Linked DNA regions of Homo sapiens: region 1 is linked to region 2. The links come from fine-mapping of genetic effects on gene expression. Tissue or cell type: whole blood. Region 2 holds a variant in brackets; the other region holds the start of a gene. All regions are shown on one strand. Distances are between the middles of the regions.

What was found. PIP is the estimated chance that this variant, and not a neighbour inherited with it, causes the effect.
Region 1: UQCRC2 starts here. The variant in region 2 is fine-mapped to the expression of UQCRC2 in whole blood (TOPMed, PIP above 0.99).

Annotation. Positions count from the first base shown.
Region 1 is chr16:21,946,687-21,957,649 of GRCh38, reverse strand. UQCRC2 (ubiquinol-cytochrome c reductase core protein 2) reads right to left here and starts at 4,289. Exons shown (of 14, transcript NM_003366.4): 1 at 4,194-4,289; 2 at 332-415; 3 at 84-233. The coding sequence starts at 4,226. It also overlaps a transcript of PDZD9 not described here. RefSeq lists enhancers at 3,947-3,996, 4,007-4,176, 3,691-4,408, 4,497-4,956.
Region 2 is chr16:21,974,519-21,985,481 of GRCh38, reverse strand. UQCRC2 (ubiquinol-cytochrome c reductase core protein 2) reads right to left here. Exons shown (of 14, transcript NM_003366.4): 12 at 9,239-9,315; 13 at 4,782-4,935; 14 at 1,822-2,394. The coding sequence ends at 2,311. PDZD9 (PDZ domain containing 9) reads left to right here. Exons shown (of 4, transcript NM_001363519.1): 4 at 822-1,617. The coding sequence ends at 1,215. It also overlaps the pseudogene LOC100420644. Among named protein-coding and RNA genes, the nearest start is that of PDZD9, 21 kb to the left of the region's middle. The variant G/A (reference allele first, on the strand shown) is at 6,151.

The DNA of each region.
Region 1 (10,963 bases), 28 kb after region 2:
AAGACATTGATCTTAGTTTTTCTTTTTCACAGGACCAAGATACCACAGCATTTCCAAACACTTGAGGAAGTGAAGATACTCACCAGACTGGATGTAAGACGCAGCAAATGGGTGGTTCCTAAATTGCTGAAGTCCTCATATCTACTGCCTGCTTTAATGAACAAACCAATTCTTGATACAGGAGAATAGTTTTCCAAAGAAGCAATCACCAAGCCATTTGGTAACTTGGTAAACTGTATTTAAAATAAAGTAGAGATATAATGAATGTCTTCGTATTACCAAGGAGAGTAAGGCATGTATAGCTTCCAGCGAGCAAGTTAGTGGGACTAACCTCAAGGTCCTGAGGTTGTGGCGGTGCTCCTGCAGGCGCAGCTGTGGCTTTAACTTTGGGGGCAACTTTGAGGGAATAAAATCTCTAAACATAAAAAACACAGGTTACACGTATTTCTCACAAGAACAGTGCTTTATATAAAAGCATGGTATCTTAGGGTACCCAAGCGACAGAGGGTGTTCGGGGGTGGAAGGAGCAATAACCACCTCCATGGGAGGATTTACCTGCATAACATTTTTTTTTTTTTTTTGAGACAGAGTGTCTCTCTGTCGCTCAGGCTGGAGTGCAGTGGCGCAATCTCAGCTCACTGCAACCTCTACCTCCTGGGTTCAAGCCATTCTCCTGCCTTAGCCTCCCAAATAGCTGGAATTACAGGTGCGTGCCACCATGTCCAGCTAGTTTTTGTTTTGTATTTTTTAGTAGAGATGGGGTTTCACTGTGTTGGCCAAGCTGGTCTTGAACTCCTGATCTTAAGTGATCTGCCCACCTTGGTCTCCCAAAGTGTTGGAATTACAGGCGTGAGCCACTGCACCCCGCCTAGCTGCATAACTTATTATGGACTTACTAACCCACCAGTTTACCCAAGCCATTCTTAAACCTCTATTTATTAGTGATTTATAGAGTTCTTGATGCTTATTTTTTAAATGATGTAAAGAATCACTGTATTTTCTTATCTTTCAGTTACCTTATAAAAGTTTCATGGTTCTGTGTAGTTCTAAAGCTTTGGCATTTTTTGAAAAAGTGTCAGATCACCCCATCCACAACCTTTTTTGTTGAGTTGGAGTCGTGCTCTGTGTCCCACGCTGGAGTGCAACAGTGCGATCTCGGGTCATTGCAATGTCTGCCTCCTGGATTCAAGCGATTCTCCTGTCTCAGCCTCCCAAGTAGCTGGGATTACAGGTACATGCTGCCACGCCTGGCTAATTTTTTGTATTTTAGTAGAGATGGCGTTTCACCCCATAGCTCAGGCTGGTCTCAAACTCCTGAGCTCAGGCAATCCACCCGCCTCGGCCTCACAAAGTGCTAGAATTACAGGTGGGAGCCACCACACCTGGCCTGTGTCCACAACCTTTTATAGGTTTCAGCTTCTTGCTTCTTTTATCTGCCCAATGAATGTCATCCGTTCAGTCTAATTTCCAATTGAAATGGTTTCATCTCCTTAATCATCTTAGTAACCTTTAAAAAAGACAAACTAGCCGGGTGCGGTGGCTCACGCCTGTAATCCCAGCACTTTGGGAGGCCAAGGTGGGCGGATCACCTGAGGTCAGGAGCTCGAGACTAGCCTGACAAACATGGAGAAACCCCATCTCTAATAAAAACACAAAATAAGCGGGGCGTGGTGATGCATGCCTGTAATCCCAGCTACTGGGGAGGCTGAGGCAGGAGAATCACTTGAATCCGGGAGGCGGAGGTTGCAGTGAGCCGAGATTGTGCCATTGCAGTCTAGCCTGGGCAACAAGAGCAAAACTCCGTCTCAAGAAAAAAAAAAGAAAAAGACAAAGTATATACCAACTTCCTCCAAGCCCTCAATATTTTCCATTGTATCTTCACTCTTGTGTGCTGTATTAAGACCACACAACCAAAGGTCTTAGTTTTTTTGACTAAATAAAACATTTATGACATGTATGTCATCCTGAGATTAATAATGGCTTCATCCACATCAGATTCTCAATATATAAAATGCAGTTACTGGTAGGGTGAAAGGGTCCCATTAAATATTAGATAATGGACCCAAAATGCATTCATTTTATTCAGTTTGTTTTGGCAAATGTTATACAATGCCATACAAATCATTCTGATTATGACTAAAGTTCATGAGGTTATTAGAGGAGATGATGAGTGAATAAAATTTGGTGCTCCCAAGACCCAATGAACACCTCCTCACTGGAGTTTCCCGGACATCCCTGCACAGTCTGCAATGCCTCCACTCTGTGCTGTCCAGAAGGCTGTTTGTTGTACATCATTAGTGCTGTACTAGGTTGGCTGCTGGTTATCACTTGCTTTTAGTACTGCTTTTCAGTTATGAATTACAATTAGCTTTACTTTATCGTCATCAATTTAGTTTGCTGGGTATGGTATAGTTAACCTTCTTTGTAATTTTGGCCTATAATTTTCCAAAAAGTAAACTTTTAAGATATATGGGCATAGCAATTCAAATATGAATAATCTATAATTCCGTTACCAAGTGAGATTTTAGGTGTTTTCCAACCAAATGTGCCCAAATAGTAACTCTTTGTTGGTAATTTTTTTTTTTTTTTTTTTTTGAGACGGAGTCTCGCTCTGTCGTCTAGGCTGGAGTGCAGCGGTGCGATCTCGGCTCACTGCAACCTCCGCCTCCTGGGTTCAAGAGATTCTCCTGCCTCAGCCTCCTGAGTAGCTGGGATTAGAGGCGCCCACCACCACCACGCCCGGCTATTTTTTTTTTTTTTGTATTTTTAGTAGAGACGGGGTTTCACCATGATGGCCAGACTGGTTTCGAACTCCTCATCTCAAGTGATCCGCCTGCCTCTGACTCCCAAAGTGCTAGGATTACAGGTGTGAGCCATCGCGCTCCGCCGGTAATGTGCTTCTTAATCGTCCCATTCAAATCAGCAAATTATCCTAGTAACTGTCATGCAATCTTCTAAATTATTTTGTTCTAATAACAAGATATATCTAAGTTTATTCTCCTATATAAAGTGCTAAAATTAGACACATAAATAATTGCTTTCAAGTTTACTGCAATTTGTTTACTTTGGGCCTCTCCAACTGTTTTCTCTGAGCTTTTTCTGTTGCAAAATAGAATGGAGAAGGAAATGTTGGGGTCTTTTGCCAATCTAACCGTGCTTCCCTCCAAGGGTAATCACTGGTGTGTCTAGGTATACCTGGAAGGTTAATGCAATTACAGCCTAAATCGATATAGCCCACAGCACATTTATGTAAACATAAAGCATAAGAACATTCCATGCCCAGGTCTGGTCTTCTGCATCTCCATCTAGGGGGGTTTCTCAACACAGGTACTACTACTGGCACTTGGGGCTAGATAATTCTTTGCTGTAAGGCGAAGTTTAGCAGCATCCCTGGCCTCTCCATGCCAATAGCACCCTCCTTACAAGTTGTTGCAACTAAATATGTCTCCAAACATCGCCACCGGTTCCCTGGGGGCATTCTGTCCCTCGCTATGATTTTTTAAGTGTTCCCCCTTACCCCTCTTAATAACCACTGTCCCACAGTGATATAACCCTGATGTGTGAGTTTTCCCCAAGTGACAGCTATGTTTAATTTAGGCTTGAAGGGGAAACTTAATTAAGGAGCTTTTGAGGACAAACAGAGACGTCTTGGAGGAACCGTCTAACATACGATCAAGAAAAGCAACGTTAGACTACTAAGACACCATAGTATTTAACAATGAAGTTCCAGGTACTGTAATAAGTGTTCTATCTGCATTAGCTCCTTTCTTATACTTTTATTCGCTGGGGAAACTGACGCTCCGTGATAAACCAAGGAGCAGAGGCTGCAGCGGATAAAGTGAAGGTGGGGGGCTAAGTGCGCCGTCCTCCCGCTCCCCCTGGGTTTCACGGTCTCTTTCTCCAGCACTTGAGTACCGGAGTGACCTTCAGAAGTCTCTCCAAGGACTCGCTTCAACTCCGCTCTCACGTCCTGCCCCTCTCTTCAGGTTTCCCGGTGTTAGGTCTCTTGTGCTCACAGCATGAGCTGGGCCTCCAAAGCCTGACCCAGTCTGCAGCCCACTTGGCCCGCAGGGTTCAGCTGAAGGGCAGACCGAATCCCAAGGCCCAGACCCCAGACCAGACACCTCCGCCTCGTATCACCTTGTCGACACACTGCTCCCCAGCCCTTTCCCAAACCCGCCACCTGAGCTCACCGAGAAAGAGCCGGCTCTGGTTAGTAGCTTCATGATTCAAGATTGTTCTGACACACGGTCACTGCCGGATTAAAGGAAAGCAAGATGGTGGCGGAGGCCGGGAGTTTCCCAGCGTTCCCCGCTAACACTTTCCCACGTCCCCTTCGTGAGGTACTCTCTATACTGCCGCGCTCTACTGCTCTCTTTATAAGGTTGGACCAGTCCAATTCCTCCAAGACTCAGAATAGGGAGACGCACAATTTCCCAAGTAAATATATGCAGAGAATAATGTACGTCACTGCTTTTTGCGTTCTTCTCCTAGCCTGAATATCCAGTATGCACCCCTTTTCTAAGTACGTCTGCAGCAGCCTGTCACAACTCCCCCCGCTATCTTGGGCTCTTCCGCTCAGCATTGTCCAATGGGACGCGCCTCTCTTGGGACTCCGCATGCGCCCTCCGGGATGACACCTGCACTGGAGGCCCTGGGTTTCCGCGTTCCTGGACGTTGGAGGCTTCAGGAGATTCCTGCCACTCCACCTTTCTGCAGAGGTATTGGGTATCGAAGCCCGGCGTAGTTGCCTCTCGCTGGGTGAAGTCCTTACTGGATCTTTAGCTCCGTGAAACAGGGGCCTCGTTCAACGTATTCGCCGCTGTGTCCCCCAGAGCAGGCCCGGGACACACCGGGAGGGTCAGCAACCTCGGGGAATCATCACAAGGCTTTTGGTCTCGTGGAATTTACGTCCTAGGCTGGGGCTACATAGAATATAAAAACTTAGCTATAGTTTTTGTGTTAGGAAAATAGAAATGTTTTGGATAGTAGGTGTGTTATGTGAGCCGAAACCGGCAGTTGGAGAAAGTCAGTCACGTGACGACTTGGGGCGGGGGCGTTCACTCCGGTCCTCAGCGAGTGTTAACCCAGAAAGTGCCTTGAGCTAGGCACTATGCCAACGCGAGAGGCGTGGTCCCTGCCCTTTAGGGACTTTAGAGTTTCGTACCTTGCTACGTTGCTTGGTTGGGAAACCGACAGTATCAGCATCAATATCATTTAGGAGTTGATTAGAAATGTATGAACTCCAGGTCCCATATTGGATCCGAATCGGTGTTTTTACAAGATCCTGGGATGACTTCGTATGCACAATAGTTTCAGAAAGGCTGGTGGTGTAGACGTTACAAGGCATAGGCAAATGTACTTTCTTTTTGCCTTGTGTCTGAATTGCTCCAGGCCTACAACGGACTTGGGCTCTCTAATTAAGATCTGGGCATTAAGAACCTGGCACCAACCCAATTTCTGTGCCTGCTGGGGACGCCCTCAACCCAATTCATACCACACAGTTTCCCCACATGTGGTAGATTTAACACTAGTGGTGCGTGAGATGATTTTAAGTTGGTACATAGATGAACACTTCCATTTTTTCCTTTTAAAAATTTGTATAAATTTAAGGGGCGCAAGTACAGTTATGTTATATGGATATATTGCAGTAATGGTGAAGTCTGGGCTTTTAGTGTACCCATCACCCGAATAATGTACATGGTACCCATTAAGTACTTTCTCATCGTTCACCTCTCTCCCACCCCTCCACCTTTCGGAGTCTCCATTGTCTGTCATTCCACACTCTATGTCCATGTGTACACCTTATTTAGCACTGTTCCATTTTAATAATATATTTATTTTGATTATGGCAAGCAATGCTAGTAGTGAATTTCCTCTTTAAGTACATTTATAAAATAATAAAAGTTGGTGTAAAAACGTTAAGTAACTTGATGATACGGAGATACAGCAAAAATCATGAATGTGTTATACAGGTACCATTGAGTGAAATCTGGGAAGCAGTGCTCTGATCAAGCCACCTGCCTGCTTAAAATTCTTCAACGACAGCCACGTTTTTCAGGATAAAATTCAAATTCATTAACATGGCATACAAAGCTGTCTCCAGTACTTCAAAACCCCAATTCCCAAGTTAGCTAGCTGCACCCCTGAGTCCAATCATTGTAACTTCATCATTCAACAGTTCAGGTCAGGTAGGAGGAACACAAAAGTCTCCACACTCAAGTGCACACACACACACACACACACACACACCCACACCTGCTTATAATGTCCTCTCATTCTTAGGTTATGACCCAATATCAGAAAGGGGCAAAAATAAATTCTGTTCAAAATGTGGCAGGATTTGAAACATAATTCATGATATCAGCTACATAAATCATAAAATCCCAAGTTTGTCAATTGCAAAATGTCCTATTAAGCATTAAGCTACAAATTAGGAGTGCCATCTTGTGGACACATCCACCACTTCCACATCATGTCACCTCCTAGCCAACTCCGTGGCTGTTCTCACTGTGGAGGTCTCTGCCACAACTCCAGCATTTTATTGCAGAAGAAAACCCAGTCCTTGAACTGGTTTCTGCGTAGAACACACTGAAAGCCCTGGGAGAGGAAACCAGCAGACAGGAAAAGAGTAGACATGGAAGAGCAGATGAGTTCATTGCTGGAAAGCTCGAATTGTTAGTTTCGTTAATGTGGGGTCCAATTTGACTCTATGGAGCCTAACTACCTAGCCTGAGCGCTCGCGGTGAGTATGGGGTGGGAGAATGTAAAGAGAAAGCAGGCAACAGTAGGAGTAAAACACACCAGAGGAAGGTGATGTGGGTTTATACTTGGGAACAACATTACCTTGCCATCTTAGGGCCAGAGGCATTAATCATGGCTTCCCCAATGCATAATTTCGATGTTGGCATTTCCTTCCCCATTCCTTTCAGAATCCTACCCTGTCAGGTATTATCTCTGATGAAATATTCCCTGGGCCAGGCACAGTGGCTCATGCCTGTAATCCCAGCACTATGGGAGGCCAAGGTGGGTGGATCACCTGAGGTCAGGAGTTCAAGACCAGCCTGGCCAACGTGGCAAAACCCTGTCTCTACTGAAAAAAAAATACAAAAATTAGCCGGGCATGGTGGCAGTTGACTGAAATCTTAGATACTCGGGAGGCTGAGGCAGGGAGAATTGCTTGAACCTGGGAGGCGGAAGTTGCAGTGAGCCGAGATCACTGCCATTGTACTCCAGCCTAGGCGACACAGCGAGACTCTGTCTCGGGGGGGAAAAAAAAGTTCATATCAATTTCTAATATTCTATAATTATTGTTTTTGGTCACATATACTTTTTCCATGTATTGAGGTGAACAGATTGGTCTTATTCTGTGTTAAGTTATATTGATTGATTCAAATTATAAATAAACCTTTCATTCCTGTTATAAACCCAACTTGGTCTGGATGTTTTATTCTTTTAATATATTGCTAGACCTAATTTGCTACTTATTTGTTTAGGATTTGTGCATTTATGTTCCAGAGTGATACTGGCTTTAACTTTCACTTTCATTCCCCCCATTCATGCATTTTTCTGTCATAGATAAAATGAGTTAGGAAGTGTGAAAGGAAAAAAAATCTCAGGGCCTCCAAATCACTAAGCCAAAGGGAAAATTCAAGCTGGGAATGATGTCAGACAAACCTGCCTCCCGTTTTATTCCTAAATAAGATAGCTATAAGGATAAAAAGCTACATAACTTACCTTACAATTTGCCCACAGGGCAATTCCATGTGGATCTGAGGATCTTTACCCTAAAACAGTTTTGTTGAATTTCACCCTGGCAATGTAAATTGATAGCTGTCTTCCTTCCTTCCTTTCCTTTTCTTCCTTTCCTTTCTCTCTCTCTCTCTGTCTCTCTTTCTCTGTTTCTCTCTCTCCCTCCCTTCCTCCCTCCCTCCTCCCTCTTTTTTTTTTTTTTTTTTTTTTTTTTGGAGAGTTTCACTCTTGTTGCCCAGGCTGGAGTGGAATGGCATGATCTGAGCTCACTACAACCTCCACCTCCTGGTTTCAAGCAGATTTTCCCACCTCAGCCTCCTGAGTAGCTGAGATTACAGGCATGTGCCATGATGCCTGGCTAATTTTGCATTTTTAGTAGAGACAGGGTTTCACTATGTTGGCCAGGCTGGTCTCGAACTCCTGACCTCAGGTGATGCACCCACCTCGGCCTCCCAAAGTGCTGGGATTACAGGTGTGAGCCACCGCACCAGGCCTGATAGCTTATTTTCACAGGTGCAGGACAAAGGACAGAACTCAAAGTCCATCTTAAACAAATGTGTATCTGATGGCTTCCTCTGCCCTATTGTTTACATTGTATTATGTAAAAAAAATGAAGATTCTCTGAGCCAGACAATGACATAAGTGAGTATTCCTCTGCCCATCCTCTCACATGTAAATTGTATATTCAGTGAAAGGCTGATCAAAGACTCAAGGGGATGCAACCCTTTGTCTCTTGTATACCCACACATTTTTAAATTTTTTCTTTTTTTTTTTTTTTTTTTGAGACGGTCTTGATCTGTCACTCACGCTTGAGTGCTTCCAGTACTTCCTGGGCTCAAGTAGTCCTCCCACTTCAGTCTCCTGAGTAGCTGGGACCACAGGCATATGCCACCACATCTGGCTAATTTTTGTATTTTTGATAGAGATGGGGTTTTGCCATGTTGCTCAGGCTGGTCTCAAACTCCTGACCTCAGGCAGTCCACTGGACTGGCCTCCCAAAGAGCTGGAATTAAGATTTCAAATTTTCTTCCTTTTCACCCATATCAATCCTTTCTCCTTAAATATTGAAGCCCTTGAAATCATCTTTGGAGAAAGGCATAGACATACCTCTCAGGCGCTTATCCTTAACCTTGGCAATGGAAACTTTCCACATTGATTGAGACCTGTCTCAGATACTTTTGGTTCACAGAAGTAAACGTCTTTTCCCAGCTTTCGTATATTTTGCGTGCTCCCTTTGATTCTGTCAGGCTTTTATTTTATTCTTTATTAGGGTGGGTCTATTTAGGTTTTTGATCTTATTCTAGGACATGATCTTTACTTCTAAGGCATGGCTTTTCTGGAGTTATAACTGTAAGGGGTGCTCAGTAAGGTATCTCTACTGTGGCTCTCAGTAAGAATTCCGACATTTTCTGCACTATGTAAACTCTGGGTCTACCTTTGTTACAGGTAGTTAGACAGGTATGAGCGGGACAGGAGAGGGCTCTCCCCCCATCCACCAGGAATGTCGGGTGATGATTTGGCAGTTATCACATTGCCTCTCTAAGTGATAAATTGGGCCAGGCGCGGTGGCTCAGACCTGCAATCCCAACACTTTGGGAGGCCAAGGCGGGCGGATCACCTGAGGTCGGGAGTTTGAGACCAGCCTGAACAACATGGAGAAACCCCATCTCTACTAAAGATACAAAATTAGCCAGGGATGGTGGCGGGTGCCTGTAATCCCAGCTACTCGGGAGGCTAAGGCAGGAGAATCACTTGAACCCAGGAGGCGGAGGTTTGGGTGAGCCGAGATCGCGCCACTGCACTCCAGCCTGGGCAACAAGAGCGAAATTCTGCCTCAAAAAAAAAAAAAAAAAGATAAATTGGAGAGGCCATTTCCTGATAGTCCACACCCGTTGCACTAAATTAACAGTGTTAATTGAATGCAGACACCAGGGAGAAGCAACTTCCTGGGCATGTGCATTAAGAGACAAAATGGCGGAGTATGACTTTCCAGGGTTACTCCACCAGAATAGGGAAGAAAGTCTCAGATGGGCATGGGTACAACTTCTTAAACACGCTGCGCATGCTCACCTCCAACGGGTGAGGGGGGTACCAGGCATGCGGGCAGCCCACCCTAAGGGAAGAATCATGAGAAAGGGGCCAGCCTATAAAGATTACTGTTAAACAGAGCGCTTGACCTCAGTGCCTGGTTGGGTCTCTTCCAAGCATACTTTCCTTTCCTTTTTTATCCTGTTCTAAAGCCTTTTAAATAAACTTCCACTCCTGCTCTGAAACTTGCCTTGGTCTCTTTTTCTGCCTTATGCCCCTCTGTTGATTTCTTTCTTCTGAGGAGGCAAGAATTGAGGTAGCTGCAGATGTACACAGATTCACCGCCAGTAACTCAGATATCGTCCACCGGTAACACATTCAGTTCTCAGTCTAGCAGGTGCCATTCTCTGATAGGCCTCACAGCATCTCTCCCTTTGCACATGGCACAGGCCAGCTCATGACTCACAGCAAACCCCATTCAAATTTCTGGGCCCCCGCTTCGTCTTTATCATCACCCTGCTCTTCAAATTCTAGCTGCTTTAGCAATCCTAAACTCCCTCTTAATTGATCCCTTTTGAGGTTCAGAAGCTACAGTTCAAAAAAACCTAAGATTTATTGTTCCATTTCTGCAAAAGGACGACGTGAAGCTACATTGATCTGCCTTACTACTCGTATCTGAAACCTAGTAGAACATTAGACAGTTTCGTAATTAGGTAATTGTGGGAAAAGGAGCATAGGTGGAGCTATGGGCTTCATTTCAAACAGCAGGGACAAAAGAAAGCACCTCAACATTAGCAGCATCAACAAAAAGTGCAGCAGCATAATGACTCACCTGTAGGTGTTGATAAGCTCATCAGCATGAGGCTCCAGTTCAAGTGAATTCAACCATTTCTTCACATACAGTTGAATCTGGGGCTTAGGGACTCCCCATAATCTGGCATACATGATCATTATTTCCTGAGCAGTCATATATTCTAGCAAGACATCAAATTCAGGACAATAACCAATTCTTGACCTTAACCTAATTACAAGAATTGCATTAAGTAAAGACCCAAGTCATCTATCCCACTAGACAACCATGGATAAGATGGCAAACCTGCAGTCTTCCAGGCCATACTTTTAAGAGTCCTACCAAGATATTTTTTTTCTAAAGGGCTACAAAATTATAGCTGTCAGATCTATT
Region 2 (10,963 bases):
ATTGGAGAAAGTTAAAAACAACAACAACAACAACAACAAAAACCTGGCTGGGCACAGTGGCTCATGCCTGTAATCCTAGCACTTTGGAGGCCAAAGTAAAGATTGCTTGAGGCCAGGAGTTTGAGACAGGCATGGGCAACATAGGGAGATCCTGTTTTAAAAATAAATAAATAAATAAAAATAAATAAAAATTAGCCAGGTGCGGTGGCATACAGCATACACACCTGTAGTCTCAACTACTTTGGAAGCAGAGGCCAGAGGGTCACTTGAGCCCAGGAATTCAAGGTTGCAGTGAGCTATGATTGTACCACTGCACTCCAGCAAGGGTGACAGAGCAAGACCCTCTCTAAAAAAAAGACTCTAAGACTTACTAATGACTAGGATGTTGAAGATCCTTAAGGCCCACTATTTCCTGACTTCCTGACTCCTCTGGAAATCAGTAATGTTGTGTTAATGCCACGTGAGCCACAAGAATAGAGTTCTCAGGAGATGGCCAGGTTGAATCCGTCACTTTAGCTGCAGTGAAATTAACCTACCCTTTAACACCTCCTAATATTCTGGTCAGTAGTCTAGTATAAGTCTGTGCAAAACTTTTTAAGGTATGGTGAAGTAATTTAAGGCAGAATTTGATTTCCATTTAGAAATGGAAAAAGATTTCAAGACGATTTAAAAAAGAGAAACATTTCAATGACACAGAAAGGTAATGCTAAAGCTAAATTGTATCTTTTATGAGTCAAAGCAAGTTATAAGGCATCTTGTTAGGGGACCATAAATGTTTAGACATGAAGAATCTATTTTATTCACTATTCTTTTCATTTCAGCACACCAAAGAAAATTGAGCTGGCAAAAGATGAATCTTTCACAAGCAGTGATGATAATGAAAATGTAGATTTAGATAAAAGACTTCAATATTATAGATATCCGTGGTCAACTGTGCATCACCCTGCAAGGAGACCAATATCCATCTCCAGAGACTGGCATGGATATAAGAAGAAGAACCATACTATTAGTGTAGGAAAAGACATTAATTGTGACGTGATGATTCACAGAGACGACAAGAAAGAAGTGAGGGCCCCTTCTCCATACTGGATAATGGTGAAGCAAGACAATGAAAGCTCTTCCTCCTCTACCTCCTCTACCTCAGATGCATTTTGGCTGGAAGATTGTGCCCAAGTTGAAGAGGGTAAAGCCCAACTGGTATCAAAGGTTGGTTAGCAAATCTGTGGTCATATGAGCATTTATCTTGCAGACACCCAAGTTTTGTGCCTCACCAGGCACAAGTTTGCTGTACTTATCAAGGACTGTCTGTAGACTCACCAATTCTCTTCTCTTATGACTGCGTTATAAAGCCTTTAGAGATGTTCTTCAACAGGATTATCTAAAGACTTCCTTGGGTTCTTGCAGGCCTCACAAATCTTATTTTCAGAATAAGACCCTCCTTTTTGAGAAGAATTTCTTTCTTTTAGAAAATGCCGTAGAGAAATCCAATATCAGAATGTCTGAACATAGTAGAGAATGTCACTTTATGTAAACACTACATTTTTCTTTAAATATTTAGTTTCTCTCTTTTTTTTGGTAAACTTCAAGTACTATAATTAAAATAACTAAGAGACATAATTCTTTGGCTAGTTATTCACATTAGAATTCTTTTTTTTTCCCCTTTTTAGCCCTTCTTTTACTGTAAATGTTGAATTGAGAGTTAATTATTTGGAAGAGACAGGATAGTAACAGATAAGGGAGAGACAGGAGATGAGAGAAAAACAAAACTCTGTCAATGAAGATAAATCAGACATAAAAAAATGAATGAATGGGAATATAGGATATGATTGATAGGAAATGTATGTTTTTTGGAAATAATTTTATTGCAAAAAAGGCAAAACAGGGGTAAAAACCAGACCATTTAGCTGTTGACACCCAAAATGACAAATTTTGAACTTGCTTTCATCTTAAACGCCACCAATAGTAATCTGGCACTATTTACCCCGATAGCCACTTAGCCTTAATTTTAATAGTTTCTGATGCTTCTATACTCAATAATTATATTCCTGTCTCCTTTAAAGCATCTAAAACAAAGATATCAGCACATAATAAATACTTGTTGATTAACTCATTGAGAAAAACGTAAGAAAAACACTTAAACAGAATGTTTTATTGACTTTAGGTCAGCTGGGAATAATTACCTGCATTTATGCCTTATTTTACCTCACTGGAAAAAAGACAAATGATATATTAGAGACTTCTGACTTTCATGTGTTTGCTGCTCTGGGCTGAGAGAACGTTCAGCTCTCTCCTGTAATGTGTGCATCAGTATTACAACTCATCAACAAAAGGTGTATGTCCCAAATTTCCACTTGCTGCCATTGACTTCTGGCCAGAAACAAACTTCTTTGCCGCCTTTAAAGAAACAAACAAAAGACAAAATTAACAAAAATAAAAATATATATCATCAAGCAGGCGAACTTATTTTGTCATTTCAAGAATTTATGGATAGGACATTCTTTTTTTTTTTTTTTTTTTTGAGGTGGAGTCTCGCTCTGTCACCCAGTGTGGAGTGCAGTGCTGCGATCTTGGCTCACTGCAGCCTCCGCCTCCCAGGTTCAAGCAATTCTCTGCCTCACCCTCCCAAGGAGCTGGGATTACAGGCATGTATCACTATGCCCAGCTAATTTTTGTATTTTTAGTAGAGACGGGATTTCGCCATGTTGGCCAGGCTGGTCTCAAACTCCTAGCCTCAAGTGATCCACTCACCTTAACCTCCCAAAGTGCTGGGATTACAGGCGTGAGCCACCAACCTGGCCTTCGATAGGACATTCTAAGCCAGCAATTACTATAATAGCTGTTGTGAAAATTAACTAGGAGATGGCTGGTGCTTTAATTTGGGACAGTGTGGGAGGAAAAGCTTAGCTGTTTCTCTGAAAGTCCCATTGTATGTGTAATGAACCAAGCAAGAGCAACACTGGTAAGAGGGTAGCTGTTCAAAGAGAGATAAGGAAAACAACACTGACACTGTCAAATAGAGTAGTGTGGCTTCAGGCAGGGATATACTTTCCTGTTTCGGTATTACAATGGCAAATAGTCTGGGTCAATAAAAATACATTGATTGTTAACTTAAAAGTAAAACTTGATACCCTAGAGGATTCTTTATGCCACTACTTCCAAGTTCAAAGGCTGGTTAAGTGTAGTATCATGAGTCAGGTGTAGGTGGAGCAGCAGCCCCCATATTCTGTCAGGCCAGCTTATCTTATTACTATGAAGGAGAGGTGGTGGTGGAAGCAGTCGGGTTGGGACGCACATAATGATAGGATATAAGATGAAGACAGCCATTTAAAAGAGTACCAAATGGGCTGGGCGCGTTGATTCACACCTGTAATCCCAGCACTTTGGAAGGCTGAGGCGGGTGGATCACGAGGTCAGGAGATCGAGACCATCCTGGCTAACATGGTAAAACCCCGTCTCTACTAAAAATACAAAAAATTAGCCGGCCGTGGTGGTGGGCACCTGTAGTCCCAGTTACTAGGAAGGCTGAGGCAGGAAAATGGCGTGAACCCGGGAGGCGGAGGTTGTACTGAGCCGAGATCGCGCCACTGCACTCCAGCCTGGGCAACAGAGCAAGACTCCGTCTCAAAAAAAAAAAAAAGAAGAGTATGAAATGACGATTGGGGCGAAGTGAAATCAAGTCAGGGTTACTATCTTAAAATAGCCTTGTCTCTTTTTTATTTGAGACAGGGTCTCACTCTGTTGCCCAGCCTGGAGTACAGTGGCATGATCTCGGCTCGCTGCAACCTCTGCCTCCCAGGCTCAAGCCACCTTCCCACCTCAGCCCCATGAGCTCCTGAGTAGCTGGGACTACAGGCGCATGCCACCAAGCCTAGCTAATTTTTGTACTTTTTTGTAGAGATGGGGTTTTGCTACATTGCCCAGTCTGGTATTGAACTCCTGGGCTCAAGCAATCTGCCCACCTCAGCCTTCCAAAGTGCTGGGATTACAGGAATGAGCCACTGCACCCAGCTTAGTTTTTTATTTTTTCTTATCCCCACTGTCCCTATACAAGGTAGACCTGTTGGTGAGAAGATGGCCGAGACATCTACAGTAGAAAGCAAGTTGGCAAGTTTAATGTAGAAAATGGGGAAAACCCACTTACTTTGGATTAATTCTGTAGGTCATGTGCTTGTTAGGCACAGCAGGGAACACAAAGAAGTACATGACATAGTCCTTGCCCTCAAAACAGCTCAATATTGTAGGGAACAATAATATATGTGAAAAAAAAATTAGCAAGAACAAGAGAATGTCCTAGGCTGAGAAGAGTAAAGAAAATCTTAAGATGCTAGATGGTGAAATATTGCTAGGACTGAAGAGGAAAAATAGCAAACTTCACTATTTAGGTTGGATCATATGAAACTGCTAATATTTGACTCTTCTTTACTTCTAGTCATCTAACATAAGCCCATTTTATAAACTACCATTAGTTTAACCTAACGTTTGATACGTTAGGTGTATTAAATGCACTTTTGACTGCCATCTCAGTGGATGGCAGCCCTCTTACTGACATCACAGTTTAACCTAATGGTAGTTTATTTGAAGGAGGAAGATACATATACTCGAGCTGACAGGGAAGCTTGTTGCGGATCTTATGGGAATGAGCCCTCCTGCCTCCACATTAAGTAGATGAGCACCAAACATAAGAATAATACACTGCCCAAGGACGCTTATGCATCCTTCTGAAATTGGATCATTAAGGTTAAGTTCTCTGTTGTTAAATCGTTAAGTTTTCATTTACTTACATTTATGATATCAGCATTAGCCACTGAATCAATCTGCTGAAGGACTGTGGATGGTGGCATGTAAGAACCAGCAACTAGAGCCTGGGACCCGACTTCTTCCAGGAAACACTCAGAAGACTCCACTGACATTAGGTATCCAGCTTTCAGCTTGTTCCTGTCCAATAAAAGGCAGAAGTCAGTTTTAGAGAGCAAGGCAATTATTTTTTTTTTCTGAGTGGTGGCGGGGGGCTGTGAACATCAAAGCTTTATTTAATGGATAGAGTAACAGCGTGTCTCCCTCTTCCTGAATTCCCCAAGAAGAATGCCACTCCCTTCTCTGGAACATACTAAAACAGTAAGTCTGAAGGGAAGAAGTCTCTTCAGGGTTGCCAAAGTGTCCAATTGAGGGCCCACTTTGGCCTCCATTTGTGGGTCCATATGCTGCTACAGATTTGAGTGAGACAGCTGGAGAGCTCCCTAATGCTTCCCAAGGCCTCTGGATCCGGTTGTGCAATCTGGATCCTCTGCATGTCACTGGCCAGTCGCAGCATGCTCTTTCTCCTGCCCACTGGCACAGTGAGGAAGATCTCTCTGCTGTCAGTGAGAAGGCTGTCATCCACTGAGATGGCAGTCAAAAGTGCATTTAATACACCTAACGTATCGAACATCATAGCTTGGCCCAGGTTATCTCATATGTGCTCAGAACACTTACAATAGCCTGCAGCTGGGCAAAAGTCTTCTAACATAAGCCCATTTTGTAAGGAAGCATTGATTATCTCATGTACTGCATATCACTAGCCTAGGAAAAGATCGAAATTCAAGGTATAGTCATGTACTACATAATGATGTTTTTGGTCAATGATGGACCACATATATGATGGTGGTCCCGTTAAGATTATTAGGGAGCTGAAAGATTCCTATTACTTACTGACAACATAATGTTGTAGTGCAATTTTAAAAAAATAAATTTAGCGTAGCCTATGTTTACAGTGTTTAGTATCTACAGCAGTGCACAGTAATGTCCCAGCCCTTCCCATTTACTCACCACTCACTCACTGACTCACTCGAAAGCAGGAGCTATGCCATAAAAATGGCATACCATTTTTTTATCTTTTGTGCTGTATTTTTACTGTACCTTTCCTATGTTTAGATGCACAAATACTTACCTTTGTGTTATAACTGCCTACAGTATTCAGTACTATAGTACATGCTATACAGGTTTGTAGCCTAAGAGCAATAGACTATACCATAGAGCCCATGTGTGTAGTAGGCTATACCATCTAGATTTGTCTGAACACTGAGGTTCACACAGTGATGAAACCACCTAACACCACATTTCTCAGAATGTATCCCCATCGTTATGTGACCCATGACTGGAAGCTGAAATTGC[G/A]ATGGTTTTCCTCCATAGTCAAGTTGAAAAATTATAATTGATCCATGGCAAGTTGGGGACAGTGTATATTGTAAACCTACCTTTTGGCTGCTACAGTGTGAAGACCAGGGATCTTGAAGAGCCTTCTGTCAAACCAGGGTGTCAGGCCTGTACTTGGTGTCACCACAGACAACTCCACCTGGCCCACAGCTGGGGTCACAGTGTTATAAAGGTCACAGTCTTGACCTTTTCCTTTTGCCTTTTCCTTGTATGAAGTGGGTTCTCTTCTTGGATGGAGGATACCGTTCAATGCTTGTAGTTTGAAGATTCTCATGTTTATTTTCTTCTTATGCTATCGTTTCACTTGTATTACCTGTGAGTTTTGGCAGGTTTCGGGGGTGTCTGAAGAGCTTCTGCTGTCTGTTTATTTCTGTGATATCCACTTCAGCTGTTGCTGCCTCTTTTAGGGCCTGTTTGTTTTCACCAAGGGTGAAGTAGTCAAGCCAGTTCCTCTTACACAGTGAAACAGGGCAATTTTAAGGTATGTGCCCCGAAACTCAACATATTTTTGGTAAACAGGCAAACTAACAACTTACAGTGCTAATGGCCTCCATTCTATTTCTTCAGTTCACCAAGTACGTGAACCGTTTACGTTACTATTTGGAAAGCTGTCAGTACGAAATTATACTGAAAACTCCACAGATTGCTTTTTGATTTGGGACTAGAACTTAGATCTAGGTAAAACTATTTTAATGTAAGGTTTTGATTAGTGAAGCAACTCCTGCCTCTTGCTGAGATTTGTCTGTGAGCATAGGGTATGATGGAAAAGGCAGGTGGGGAAGGGCAGTACAGGTCTTGTAAGCAACGGCAGCTTAAATATGGGCACAAAAGCATCCACTTGAAATAAAACAAAATCCAATTCACAATTCTCCCAGAAACTTATTACTTATAGACATGGTGTTTGATAAGACAGTCGAGTTATTTGAACCTCAAACGTTTATCATCCTTTAACACTCTACAGAAAGACTTCCATTTAAACATAATTACAATTTAATGCTGCAGTTTTACCACGTTGTCAGCTTAATTAAAAAATGATTTTACCTGCAATAAACTACCAAGAGGTTATTAGTGTGTCCTTTCGGCAATGACACCTCACTTTCTCTCTTTCACTACAGGAAGAACTTACAAGAAAAAGTATCAACTCCATCAAAATGGCAGAAAACATACTTTGACATTAATATTCAAAATTCTACTTTCTGCTTATTACCATACCTTGTAAGAACTGTGTTACACTTATTAAGAAAATACGTTTTCTTAAATAAATTAGATTTGAAAAACTTAGGTTTTTCTTAAGTAAATCCAGTGTTTCAATGTATTCTCATCATGTTTTGTTTCTGGTACAATCAAGCAGCCCTGCATCCTATCGATTCTTGGTTCTATGTATACAATATTTAATAAATTGTGTTGTACTTATACAAGAGATGCAACTTTGTAGTGTGCTCAGCATAACAAAACTAACAATACTAATGGGAACAGAAATGACCAAAAGGTTGTTCCATCCTGGGTTGTAATTCTGCTTCCCCTGTGGGCAATACTAAATGATCATAACGACCACTGGAGTTGCAAGATTCACATTTTGAATTGTTCTAAGTAGATGGAGTCAAACTTAAATGTCTTAAGCGGCTGTATGAAAATGCAGGTTGATTTCCAACTTTGTCCCAAGTCTGTCTCTTTTAGAGAAACCCTCGAACTACTAATGAATTAGGAGTGTTGATAGCACTTTCAATCTGGACAGTGGGGATTTATAAATTGCCAAATAGCAGACAAGTATTTTAGTCTTTCTTATAAAACAAAACAAAATCAGATCTTTTTTGGGTATAAATTAGTTATGAAGAAAGAAACTATTGTAGAATAGGTACTCTTATATACTGGTGGTATGATTATAAACTGGTACAATCTCTTTAGATTTGTGACTTAGAAATACATTTTTTTTTTTTAAGAGACAGGGTCTTGCTCTGTTGCCCAGGCTAGTGTGCAATGGCGTGATCTTAGTTCACTGCAGCCTCAAACTCGTGGGCTCAAGCAATCCCCCCTCTTCAGCCTCCTGAGTAGCTGAGGCTACAGGCACACACTACCACACCTGGCTAGTTTTAAATATCTTTTTGTAAAGACAGTGTCTTGCCACATTACCCAGGCTGGTTGAACTCCTGGCCTCAAGTGATCCTCCTGCCCCAGCCTCCCAAAGTCCTGGGATTACAGGTATGAGCAACTGCGCCTAGTCAAATGTATTATTTAAACATACACACATACACACACTCTAACATGGAGTCTTTCGTTATGTTTATAACTCTTAACTTAGTTGGGAATCTACACCAAGAAAGTAATACGAAACACAAAAATATTTTAAGCCCAAAGATATCTTTATAACTGCAGAAAATGCACAAGTGTATTTTGACACACCAATGAATATTGTTTAAATTTTTAGTAATTTGAATCAATGGAAACAGAATCATTGCTAGGGAAATCAGAGATCATTTTTGTCTTTTATTTGTAATTTTCAAACTTCTATAATAAGGATGCTATTTAAATAAGATAAAAAAGTATACAGATGGTCCCTAACTTAACTTATGATGGTTTGACTTATGTTTGTTTGGCTGGATGACTGGGTTATTAGGGTATTAAATGCATTTTCGATATGCGCATTTCTCAGGACGTAACCCCAGTGTAAGTCAAGCAGCATCTATATATACAATATTAACAATTATGTTTAAAAATGCATGATCAATAAACTAAGAAAAATGTTAACAATTATTCTCTAATTTTGGTGGAGACGAGGTCTTGCTATGTTGCCCAAGCTGGTCTCAAACTCCTGGTCTCAAATGAACCACCTGCCTTGGCCTCCCAAAGTGCTGGGATTAGTGAGCCACTGTGCCTGGCCAAAATGTTAACAATTATATCTTTAGGTGGTAGGATATGGGTATGTTTCCCTTTTTACGCTTTTCTGTACTTCTCAGTCCTTATGAGCATAGATTGTAATATTGTTATAATCTGAAAAGAATACAACTTTCAAATAACAAAAACATAAAACACAGTTAATACTGAGACTTACTTGGCAGCTTGGACATCTGTGTTGGAAAGGTTTCCTTGAGCTATTGTTTTTACTTGATTATAGGCAGCCTTGATAACCTAGGACAGATAAGAAAAGTTGGTCATCTGTGGTCAGTACCAGAGTCTCCTGCAGCACTGACACACTTCTTTACTGAGGCAAAAACACAGATGGAAGGTTAGTTCCAGACAAACAGCACAGTGTCCATGCGGAATGCTGTCATCACTATGGGTTCCTTATTCTTCCTATGTTCATAAAGCAGCTGTTTATACACAATCCTCCTGCCCCAGCCTCCCAAGAAGCTGGGACTACAGGTGCATGCTACCAGGCCTGGCTAATTTTTTAGCTTTTTTTGTAGAGATGTGTGGGCTCAAGTGATCCTCCCACCTTAACCTCCCAAAGTGTTGGGATTATAGGTGTGAGCCACCACACCCGGCCAAACACATGGATTTCTAATCACCCATAAAGAATAAGCACCTTTAAAACTTCCCCAGACTCTTGCAGTGTCATGCCATTAATACTGCTATCTCTTACTATTCACTAAGAAGAGAGTAGTAATCCATACACAGCCAATTTGTAAGGCTTGTCCATACTTTGTAAGCCAGGGTCAAGAAGGAATCTGAATCCTTGTATGGTATTTAAAAAAAGAAAGAAAGAATAAAGTTCCGGGGATGTGGGTACTTGGTAAATATTTGTTGAATAAATAAATAAATCTGACCATGATTTTCTCCATCCCAGTGCTGGCTGGGTCTGCTACTTATTTTTCCCTCTGATCACCTAAATTCTAGGACCTCTGTTTCCCCTTCATTTTAGCTGCCCATTTTCAGAGCCACACCCCAGACCTGATCATAGCCTAAATTTGCATACCTCTGAAGCCCTCAATTCTAAGACCCCGACCTCAGTCTTTAATCTCACTATCCTTATTCTTCCACTTTATCAAGATCTCTAGTTCCTTGACTTGTCCAGTCTTTCAATTTATCAGGCCCCCTCTGGCTTCACTTCTCTATTGAGCCTAGATCCCTGAATCATCCTTTTAATCACTCTTGCCAATGCTCCCAACTCCCTTGCTATCTCCTCATACTTCTCACCTGCCCACTTTGCAGGATTCCAACCTGGGATTAACCCTAATACCTACCTCCTCCATTTCTCTATTAGGCTTCTGAATGCAACTGAAGAAAAATTACATGACAGTGCTGACTGACTGTACTATGAATTTGTGGTCGCTGATTTCAAGGATACATCTACACTACAGCGAATACCCACTTTTTGTGTACCTCACTATTTGTCTGTCCCAAACTTCACTACTTTCTTTAAACTTTCCTCTCACGTCTGTCAAAACATGACTTAGCCTCCTGTCTCACTGAGGAGGTACTTCCCCATCTTCCCAATATCTTCCAATATTAGCCTGTCTGTAAGGCTAAAAGGTCCACTTGTGTGCTGGATCCCAAGTATTCCTTTCTCAGACTTGAGCCATTTATAATTTTCTATCTCCGATATCTGCTCCGATCTTTTTGCTCAGTATGTCTCTTTCAACCTAATCTCTCAGTGTAAACTCTCCTAAAACAACTTGCTCCTTGAATGTCTAAGCTCCACTAGCCCACACCAACCTCTCATTTCTTACTTGTCATTCATTCCTTAATCACTACACATTTTACCCAATTTCCACTACTCTAGTCAAAACTGTTAAGATCACCCATGATGTCCTAGCTTGCTGAAACTACCAGACTT